2 separate regions of the Homo sapiens genome follow, and region 2 is linked to region 1. Evidence: fine-mapped expression QTL. A gene starts in region 1. The other region holds a variant in brackets. All regions are shown on one strand. Distances are between the middles of the regions.

Region 1 (5,477 bases):
TTTAGTACAGTTAGGATTTCGCCATGTTGTCCAGGCTGGTCTCGAACTCCCGTCCTCAAGGGAACCTCCAATTTACGCCTCTCAAAGCGCTGGAATTACAGGCGTGAGCCACCGAACCCAGCCTTCTTTTTTTTTTTTTTTTTTTTTGAGATGAAGTATTGCTCTTTTCCCCCAGGCTGGAGTGCAATGGCGCGATCTTGGCTCACTGCAATCTCCACCTCCAGAGTTCCAGCGATTCTCCTGCCTCAGCCTCCCGAGTATCTGGGACTACAGGCATCTGCCGCCATGCCTGGCTAATTTTTTCATATTTTTAGTAGAGATGGGGCTTCACCATGTTGGCCAGGCTGGTCTCGAATTCCTGACCTCAAGTGATCCACCCACCTCAGCCTCCCAAAGTGCTGGGATTACAGGCGTGAGCCACCACACCCAGCCGTTTTTTTTGTTTTGTTTTGTTTTTTTGAGACAGGGTCTCGCTGAGTTGCCCAGGCAGGAGTGCAGTTGCATGATCGTAGCTCACTGCATCCTCAAACTCCTGGGCTCTAGAGATTCTCCCACCTCAGCCACCCGAGTGGCTAGGACTACAGGCACACTCTACCAGGCCTAGCTATTTTCTTTTATTTTTTGTAGAGACAGGTTCTTGCTATGTTCCCCAGGCTAATCTTGAACTCCTGTCCTCAAGGGAGCCTCCCATTTAAGCCTCCCAAAATGCTGAGATTTTAGGCATGGATCACCACACCTAGCCAATATCCACAGGGTCGTTTTATTTTCATCCTGGCTACTAGGTAATCATTCTGGCCAGAGAATCCACAGGCAACAAGACCAGGGAGGCTCACTGGCTCCAAGCAACAGACAATGATGTCTTCAGACTAGGGTGATAGTATGGAGACAGGGAAGACACCTCAGAGGTTCCCCATGGGACTCAGAATAAAATCCAAATTTTAAAAGTCTGAGCCGGGCATGGTGACTCACACCTGTAATCCCAGCACCTGGGAGGCTGAAGCAGGCAGATCACTTGAGGTCAGGAGATCGAGACCAGCCTGGCCAACATGGTGATACCCCGTCTCTACTAAAAATACACAAAAACACTGGCCAGGTGCGGTGGCCGGCGCCTGTAATCCCAGCTACTCAGGAGGCTGAGGCAGAAGAATGGCTTGAACCCGGGAGGTAGAGGTTGCAGTCAGCCGACATCGTGCCACTGCACTCCAGCCTGGGCGACAGAGCGAAACTCCGCTTCAACAAAAAGAAAAAAAGAATTCTAAAAGGCCATTTTCAAGGCCCCGCCAGATGGTTCCCCTCCCTTCTGCTTCATCCTTGACATTCTTCAAAAGGACAAGCCCATCCTACCAGGGCCTCTGCATTTACTGGCCCCCCTCTGTGTGGAAGGCTCCACCCTCCAGGGATTCCCATAGCTGGCATTCATTGTCTTAACTCAAATGTCCTCTGCTTGAAAAGGCCTTTCCCTGGGCCAGGTGTGGTGGCTCACACCTTTACGTAACCCCAGCACTTTAAGAGGCTGAGATGGGAGGATCGCTTGAGCCTAGGAATTCCAGACCTGCATGGGAAACGTGGCAACACAAAAAACACACAAATTCGCTGTGTGGTGGCGCGCATCTGTGGTCTCAGCTACTAGGGAGGCTGAGGTGGGAGGATCACCTGAACCCAGGGAGCCACAGTGAGCCACTGCACTACAGCCTGGGCGACAAAGTGAGACCCTGTCTCAAAAAAAAAAAAAAAAAAAAAAAGAAAGAAAGAAAGAAAAGGTCTTTCCTGACTACCCAATATCAGAAGCCTCCACTCTGATCATATCATACGTAACCTCACATCATACGTAAGTTTTTGTAAATATTTTCTCATTAATGCACTGACACCCCAGTAGAAAGCAACCTCCAGGAAGGCAGGGCCCTGTTTCGGTCACCGCTGCATGCGTAGCGCCCAGCACACTGCTTGGCACACAGTGAGCACGCCCTAAGTATCTGCTGATGGGTAAATGCATTCTATTCTGGGGAAGCAGAAAGGCCAAGGCTTGCAGCAAAGTGAGGGTCAAAAGACGCGGGAAAGTGTGTCAAGGGAGCCTCAAAGCACTTCGGAAAAGCAGCTTTTCCAGAAAGCGGGACACAGGCCAGAGGCCAGCTGCGACGAAAAGAGGGGTGCAGGGACAGCCCAAGGTTGTCGCCGTATTGGGGAACGGAGGTTGGAGCAGCCCTGAAGGCGGTTGTTTCGGAAACGGGACGCAGGGCCGAGCCGGGTGGCGGCCTCTACGGAGATCCGTGCGTCCTCAGCAAACCAAGCGGGGGCGGCCAGCAACCTGGGTCTGGGGTCTCGAGAAACCAAGAGGTGCAGAAGCCGACGCTGTGGGCTGCCCCGGGGCTGAAGCGAGGGATCCACGGGTCGCAGCAGGACGGACCCGAGGAGTCAGGGGAGACACCTAGCCCCAGGGACCCAGGCGGCCGCCTGAGAGGAGGCGGGGGCTGTTACCTGCAACATCCCGGTTGTCCATCTTGAGACTCATCCAATCCCACAATGCTCCGGCGCCCCTTAAGGGGCCCTGTTATAGTGTGCATCGCCTGATGGGAGATGTAGTCCGCCTCGGTCAGACTCGCCCTATTACTGCGTGAACGACTGGGTTTTTTTTTTTTTAACCTCCAGAAACGGAAGCCTCAGCCTATCAGCGATGCCTAAGTCCCAGTCACGATAACCAAACGGCGTCGCCCTTTTACACCTTCCCGGAGCGGCAGTCATCCCAAATACAAACTACATGTTCCAGGATGCTTTGGGCGGCAGATCTCGCGGAAGCCGCGAGGAGAGCCCGGCCCCGTCTCGCGCGCCTGCTTCCGCCTCCCTGTGGCGGCGGCTTGTTGTTGTGGAGGCCAAAATGGCGGCTCAGGCGGCGGCAGCGGCCCAGGCGGCGGCGGCCCAGGCTGCGCAGGCCGAGGCGGCCGACTCGTGGTACCTGGCGCTTCTGGGCTTCGCTGAGCACTTCCGCACTTCCAGCCCGCCCAAAATCCGCCTGTGCGTGCACTGCCTGCAGGCCGTGTTCCCCTTCAAGCCGCCGCAGCGCATCGAGGCCCGTACACACCTGCAGCTGGGCTCCGTTCTCTATCACCACACCAAGAACAGCGAGCAGGCGCGCAGCCACCTGGAGAAGGCGGTGAGCGCGGGCCGGGCCGCGAGGGAGGAGTCGCGGGCTCCTTGCAAGATCTGGGCTGACGGGTCGCGACCGCGGCGGGTGGGGGGCCGCTCCTCGGCGACCTGGGGGCGCGACCTCCGTCAAAGCCGCAGGACCCCCACCCGCCTCTGCCGGACCCCAAAGCCACCAGCCTCTCAAGGGACACGAAAGCCTCGCCCCCCACGCCTTATTTCCCGTTTCTGGTGACAGGGCTCCAGGAGCCCCGTCACCGTACTCTGAAAGTTGCCTGTTATTGGGAGCAACAGGATCCGCAAATCGTCTGGTTTTCAGGAGGATCCCACCTGTTGGTGGCGATGGGGACATCACAGGGTCCTGAAGCTATTAGCTCCTCCTGGTTCAGCTTCCGGAGCATCAGCCCCAAACGCTTCCACCTAAAGTGACTTGGGGTAGGGGTTGGCGAAGGCGAGACCCCTGGCATTCTCCCGGGAATCTGAAGTCTGGTCTCTCAGGAACCTGGAAGGGCATGATTCTCCTTGGACACAGAAGTTTGGTAATCGTGGTTTTTGGAGGGTCTTGTGCCCCCATCAATAATGCCTGGTGTCGTACGAGGGAAGCTGAGACCCGGAGTCTGGAGTTGGTCATTTGAGGCCTATGAGGAGGAGAAACAGGGGTTCTGGATTCCAGGCCCCGCTGTTCAGTTTCAGTATTAGGGGAACTAAAAGCAGCTCCTGCTTTTTCTCCATCCACTGGTGACTTCTACCATCCATCAGTCCATCCTCTTCCGTCAGAGTGAGTCCCTCCCCTGACCCAACTTGATTTGTGTCATCTTGGTGCCTCAAAGAATGCGGGAGAGTGGCTGTCATTCTGCCCTTTAGTAAACTTTCTTTTTTTTTTTTTTTTTGAGACGGAGTCTTGCTCTGTCACCCAGGCTGGAGTGCAGTGGTGCCATCTTGGCTCACTGCAAGTTCCGCCTCCCGGGTTCAGGCCATTCTCCTGCCTCAGCCTCCTGAGTAGCTGAGACTACAGGCGCCCGCCACCACGCCTGCCTAATTTTTTGTATTTTTTAGTAGAGATGGGGTTTCACCGTGTTAGCCAGGGTGGTCTCCATCTCCTGACCTCATGATCTGCCCACCTCGGCCTCCCACAGTGCTGGGATTACAGGCTTGAGCCACCGCGCCCGGCCCCTTTAATAAACTTTCTAGGGCCAGGCTCAGTGGCTTATGTCTGTAATCCCAGTATTTTGGGAGGCGGAGGCAGACAGATTACTAGACCCCAGGAGTTTGAGACCAGCCTGGGCAACACAGTGAGATCCCGTCTCTACAAAAAATACAAAAACTAGCTGGGCGTACTGACGCGGGCCTGTAGTCCCATCTACTCCAGAGGCTGAGGTGGGAGGATCAGCTAAGCCCCGGGAGGTCGTGGCTGCAGTGAGCAGTGATCACGCCACTTCACTCCAGCCTTGGTGACAGTGAAACCCTGTCTCAGAAAAAAAAGATAATAAGGAAAAAATAATAAAATTTCAGGCTGTGGAGTCGTTTTTTTCTCACAGCAGCGCTGTGATCCTGTCAGACCCCTGCCTCCCTTTTACCTTTTACCCAGCTCTGTCCTGCTTGAATAGAAAATTATTGAAAAGAATCAACTCAGATTTTAAAAACTCATTAATCTGAGGTAAATCCAAGCCCACCCTCAGCTAGTAACAACTTGCCTTGAGGAATAGATCAAATCTTTGTTTCACAGACTGAAAAGTTGGAAGGAGACTTTATTTTATTTTATTTTATTTATTTGTTTATTTTGAGACGGAGTTTCGCTCTTGTTGCCGGGGCTGTAGCGCAATGGCAGGATCTCAGCCCACTGCAACCTCCGTCTCCCGGGTTCAAGTGATTCTCCTGCCTCAGCCTCCCGAGTAGCTGGGACTACAGGTGTGCGCCACCACACCCAGCTAATTTTTGTATTTTTAGTAGAGACGGGTTCACAGTATTGGCCAGGCTGGTCTTGAACTCCTGACCTTGTGATCCACTCCCCTCGGCCTCCCAAAGTGCTGAGATTACAGGCATGAGCCACTGCGCCCAGCCCCAGATAATTTTTTTTCTTTTTTTTTTGAGACAGATTCTCGCTTTGTCACCAGGCTGGAGTGCAGTGGCGCGGTCTTGGCTCACTGCAACTTCCGTCTCGTGGGTTCAAGCAATTCTCTTGCCTCAGCCTCCCGAGTAGCTGGGATTACAGGCTTGCACCACATCATCTGGCTAATTTTTGTATTTTTAGTAGAGACAGAGTTTCACCATTTGGTCAGGCTGGTTTCGAACTCCTGACCTCAAGTGATCCGCCCATCTTGTCCTCCCAAAGTGCTAGG
Region 2 (5,256 bases), 25 kb after region 1:
GTGTGCTTGTCTACCTGGTGCGTCCCCACCAGGGCCCGGGCCAGGGCTGGGGGCGGGGGCAGGGAGAGGGAGAGGGCCCTGGTAACCCCTGCTGTCTGGTCTTGTCGCTAGGTGACTGTGATGCACTCCATGCAGGCCGGCTACCTGGAGAAGGCGCAGAAGTACACGGACAAGGCCCTCATGCAGCTGGAGAAGCTCAAGAGTAAGTCAGGTGCTCGGCTGGCCACATGGCCACAGCGACCCCTGGCGGACGGCCTGGCCAGACGCTAGCTGTACCAGGGCCCAGTGACCCTGTGTGACCGCAGCGCCCAGCCACCCTGCCTGGTGGGTCTCGTCACCCCTAGTTGATAAATGCTGGTGTCCAACGTCAGAGCAGAGCAGACAGGCCTGGGGTCGGGGGTACCTCCCTGACTGGTCAGGTCCCTTGTGCCCAGTCATGCTCAGTTGAAACAGGTGGTAGCTGCTTTTCCCAATTATTATCAGTGTTGTGACAGGGACACTCGGGATGAGGCCAGGATCAGAACTCAGCCCTCACTGACCACCAGCATGTCCTTTGGAGGTCGTGAGTTCTTTCCAGATGCTCAAGTGTCTAATCCATCCAGGGACCTTTGACTAGCACAAACCCAGAGCAGACGTCCCTGGCTGGTATAGTGTGCCCATTAGTCGGTCTGTTTGCTCCCTCGTGAGTGCTGCTGGGGGAGAAGGCATCAGAGCCAAGGCAGCCCAAAGCCGGATAGGCCCTGTGCTTCTCTTATTCCCATATGAGGATGGTTGCTTGGGGCTGTTGGGAGGTGGGGCCCAGCCCAGGTCCCCCTACCCGACTGCCTGAGGCTCTGCTGCATGGTGTCATGATCCAGGGTGGTTTCCACATTTCTACATTTCTAGAACCTGCCATGTCCACAAGCTCTTGAGCACGTAGGGTGAGGGTGAGGGTGAGAGCCAACCCTTCTTGGAGCACTGTGGGAACCAACCTCTGGCTCCAGCTCCGTCTCCCCACCTGGACAGCAAGACACACTCCTTCACTCAGAGGGTGCAGTGGGGACTAGGGGAGATGACGGGGTGGGTGCCTAGCCAGTGTGGCAGGAGACAGGAACGAGGTGGGGGCACGGTGGGCTGGGGGTGGCGCCTCCTCTGGCCTCCCCTGCATGCTTACCCCTGACTCTCACCCATAGTGCTGGACTGCAGCCCCATCCTGTCATCCTTCCAAGTGATCCTGCTGGAGCACATCATCATGTGCCGCCTTGTCACGGGTCACAAGGCCACGGCGCTGCAGGAGGTAAGGCTGGAAGCAGGAGGGGCGGGAAGGCCCAGGAGTTTGTTGGGTCTCAGCAGTGTCAGACAAGAGACTGAATTCGCCAAGTGCATACTGGCAGGCCAGCCCATCCTGCTGTCTCGCTGTCGGCCAGCGTTTTACAGCCCTGCATGGGCACCACTGATCAGAGAATCTCATACAAAAACCAGTGGAGGCCGGGCGCAGTGGCTCACGCCTGTCATCCCAGCAGTTTGGGAGGCCGAGGCGGGTGGATCACTTGAGGCCAGGAGTTTGAGACCAGCCTGGCCAACATGGCGAAACCCCGCCTCTACTAAAAATATAAAAATTAGCCAGGTGTGGTGGCAGACACCTGTAATCCCAGTTACTTGAGAGGCTGAGGCAGGAGAATAGCCTGAACCCAGGAGGCAGAGGTTGCAGTGAGCCGAGATCGCACTACTGCACTCCAACCTGGGCAACAGAGTGAGACTCCATCTCAAAAAAAAAAACCCAAAAAACTAATGGGCCATGGCCCAAAAGCTTGCACACCAAGGGGATAGCGCACATGGTCTCTGGGGATTTGGGGGGTCCTTTGACAGTGATTGTTATACCCCACCCTGCCATTAGGAACACTCTACCCCCAGTACCCACCCTCCTGAGAGGGCATGGGGGCCCTCAGTAGGCTGGAGGTCCTTTACAACCCAGACACCTGTTGGACAGAGTGGAAGAGACGAGTAACAGACAAGGGTCCCTGTCCACGATGGGATCTGGGCTGCCCTTTGCCCTCATGGTGGACGTGTCTGCTGGGGCTTTGTACCCCAGTTTGGTCAGACAGGACATGGGCTCACCCACCAGCTATGGGGTCTCTCCATTGCTGCTCAGACGCCAGGTCCCAGGTTGCAGTCCTGTGATGGCAGTACACTCTCTCCCGGCAGATCTCCCAGGTCTGCCAGCTGTGCCAGCAGTCCCCCCGGCTCTTCTCCAACCATGCAGCACAGCTGCACACATTGCTGGTGAGTAACCCTGTGACAACACCCCGGGAGAATCCAGAATGTTCTCAGTAAGTAAGTACCTAACCAGATCCAGAACATTCCCAGTGAAGGACCCCCTGACAGCACCCTAATCAGAATCCGGAATGTTCCCATAGGTAATCATATAACCTTCCCAGGCACGATCCGGAATGCTCCCAGTGAGCATCTTGTCCCACCCCACATTGGCTTGGGTCTGAAAGGTGGGGACAGTGAGCATATTACCTGCCTTGCAGCTGGCTCGGTAGAGCCATTGTCATACTCCTCCAGGGCAGCCGTGCAGGCCCCGGGCACACCACGTGTCTCTGATCTGAGCCCCCTCCCCAGGGGCCGGCCCTGATGACAACACCACCTTCTTCCAGGGCCTGTACTGTGTCTCTGTCAACTGCATGGACAACGCGGAAGCCCAGTTCACCACGGCCCTGCGGGTAAGGTGCCGGCCCTCCTTGCTGCTCGGGGCGGGCCACACTTCTGAGTAAGGAGTCGGGCGTGGTCTGTGATGAGGACAGCAGT[C/T]GCGCTAGGTCAGCTATGCAAAGCCGCAGCCCCAGAGGCAATGCACAGTAGTCAGCCCATGCCAGCCTTGGCAGTGACGCGCTGTTTATCTGGATAAGGGACAGCTATGGGGCCAGGGGCTTCCTGAGCTGACCCAAGGGCAGACGTGAGGGAGAGGTGCGACGCGTCCGGGGACACCACTTTCATGCCTGAGTGGGAACTTTTGCGGCACCCACCCCCAAGGCTGGATTGGCTCAAGTGTCAGCTGACAACTCAGAGCCATCCTGGGTTCAGGGCTCCCATGGGGAGTGGTGGAGCTGGGCCATCTCCCAGGTGCTCTTTGGACAGAGGAGGACTCTTGGTCCTGCTGGGCCGGAGAGGGTGAAGCAGCACCCCAGGCTCCTGGCCTTAGACGGGGGCCCCGCCAGGCCCTGGAAGAAGGCTGGTGCCACATCCTCACGGAGCGCCCCAGCCCAGGGCTGGACCATTGTGTCCCCACCTCAGCCTCAACCTCCTCACAGGAAATGGAGGCTGTGGACACCTTTTTCCTGGTGGTGCCAGGAAGGGCCCTGAGGAGAGGTGTCAGGGAGCAGAGGCTGCTCTGTCTGCCACTCGGGCAAGGTCACCAGGGAGTCCTGTGTGCGCCCTGACTGTTGGACAGGGTTCCCATTCCACGGCACCCCGCAGGCCTGTGGGTGCTGCCACCCCCGCCACTGGCCTCAGAGATGCACAGGAGCCCTGACATGCAGACAGCATGCTTGGGAGGGAAGGGCTGACTCAGCACCCACTCCTCTGCCTCCTCACCTCGCTCCCAGGACCCTGGCTCACTCTGACTGCAGCAGGGCCAGGACCCTCCTCGTGGCCCTGCCATCCTGCCATCTCCGTCTCCGTCTCACTCCCCACAAGTGGTTGCTATTGCTGGTTTGGTTCCGCGTCAAAGTTCCCAAGGCCATGTACCCTAAGGAGTCCTCACCCCGAGGCCAAAAGAGAGCCTCTTTTTCATGGCCCACCCAGGAGTGATGGAGCCAGGATGCAACCCCAACACCCCTAACCCCAAACACACACGCCTCCTGTGGCCCTGAAACAAACATCTCCCACCTTGCTACGTCTCAGAGCATCTGTGCTTGATTCGGAAGATCCTCTGGGCCTCCTGGGTGTGTGCCAGGAGGGGATCTGTGCAGGTGGGGTCTGTGCTTCCTGGGCTCACTCCACCTCTTGCCCAGCCCCACTGGGAACCAGGGTCTGAGCAGGGCTTGAGCTACATAGATTGGACCCTCTCTTGACGAACGATCTCATTTGCCAAGAAGAGCCAGGGACCATGGCCCATCCACCACCTGTCATCAGCAGCATTTCTGGTCTCTGACACAGCATCACCTACCTGGAGCGGGGCCTGTGCTGGCCCCCTGTGGGACAACAGCTCCCCTCTTCCCCACTTCCCCCTATGAAGAGTGACCCCCGCCTAGGACCAGCATATGCCTTGATGGCAGTGGACACCTGGGTCCCACAGGTTGCTGGCTGTGGCCTGGAGGAAGGGTCCACCAGGTCTCAGTCCTGAGAGACAGTGGAAAATGGACCAAAACCCGACATGTTCTGAGGGTAGGATTGGGGTGGCTGGTTTTCCTCTTCTGTGTTCTCTAACTGCCCCGTAACGCAGATGATGGTTTTATAATGAGAAGAAGTAATAGCTGTGTTATCCTTGAGCTTAGGAGGCAAAACAAGTGTGTTTGAAATGAAAAGAACAAGTCTTTTCCAAAGTAGTCTCCGTGGAGATTGTGGGTGCTCTGACACTGCCACATGGGTCACAGCACCCGACCCAGCCCCCTAATGTCCCCGCCTCCCATTCCAGCTCACCAACCACCAGGAGCTGTGGGCCTTCATCGTCACCAACCTGGCGAGTGTGTATATACGGGAAGGAAATAGACACCAAGAGGTAGTAGGTGACATGCTTCATGTTCGGTATCCTTTCTCTCTGTTCTCTTCTTTTTGGGGAACCAGGGGGTTGTCCTGGGCACCAGCACATCTCAGCAGACCCCAGGGTGTTCACCTTTTGAGGGATGGGCGGCACCCGACACAGACACACAAGGCGACCCAGAGGTGAATCGGGCTATGGCCGGGGGAGGCCAGGTCTGGGACAAAAACATTCCCATAGCCACAGAACACTTCTCTTTATCACAAACAAACCAAGCTGTATGAATCACACAGACAAGGTCTTATAGCCCAAGCTGTCTGCTCTAGGATGTCGGCCAGGCATTGAGGCTCAGTCCTAAGGGGCAGCAGCCAGAGCACCTTGTCCCCAGGTTGTGCTGATGCCCCTGCAGGATCAGGGGCACTCACTGGCTGCAGTGTTGGGTGGGGATGCCCAGGGTTGCCCTCACGTGGCGCTTCTGAACCAATGCTTGCATAAGAGTTAGGTTCCCTCTTCTGTCCCTTTTAGCCCTGGGATCCCCACTCAGCCCTGGGATCCCCCTCAGCCCCGGGATCCCCTCC

The links. PIP is the estimated chance that this variant, and not a neighbour inherited with it, causes the effect. A credible set is the group of variants that fine-mapping cannot tell apart.
Region 2: its variant is the best candidate, but not a certain one, in a credible set for the expression of MAU2 in whole blood (TOPMed, PIP 0.77).

Annotation. Positions count from the first base shown.
Region 1 is chr19:19,317,988-19,323,464 of GRCh38, forward strand. It overlaps MAU2 (MAU2 sister chromatid cohesion factor), which reads left to right and starts at 2,842. Exons shown (of 19, transcript NM_015329.4): 1 at 2,842-3,148. The coding sequence starts at 2,873. It overlaps SUGP1 (SURP and G-patch domain containing 1), which reads right to left and starts at 2,522. Exons shown (of 14, transcript NM_172231.4): 1 at 2,476-2,522. The coding sequence starts at 2,509. RefSeq lists enhancers at 2,390-2,439, 2,460-2,949, 2,658-3,629 and a silencer at 3,001-3,222.
Region 2 is chr19:19,342,665-19,347,920 of GRCh38, forward strand. MAU2 (MAU2 sister chromatid cohesion factor) reads left to right here. Exons shown (of 19, transcript NM_015329.4): 8 at 1-17; 9 at 112-202; 10 at 1,173-1,276; 11 at 2,185-2,262; 12 at 2,640-2,705; 13 at 4,616-4,702. Among named protein-coding and RNA genes, the nearest start is that of MAU2, 24 kb to the left of the region's middle. RefSeq lists silencers at 1-80, 121-260. The variant C/T (reference allele first, on the strand shown) is at 2,791.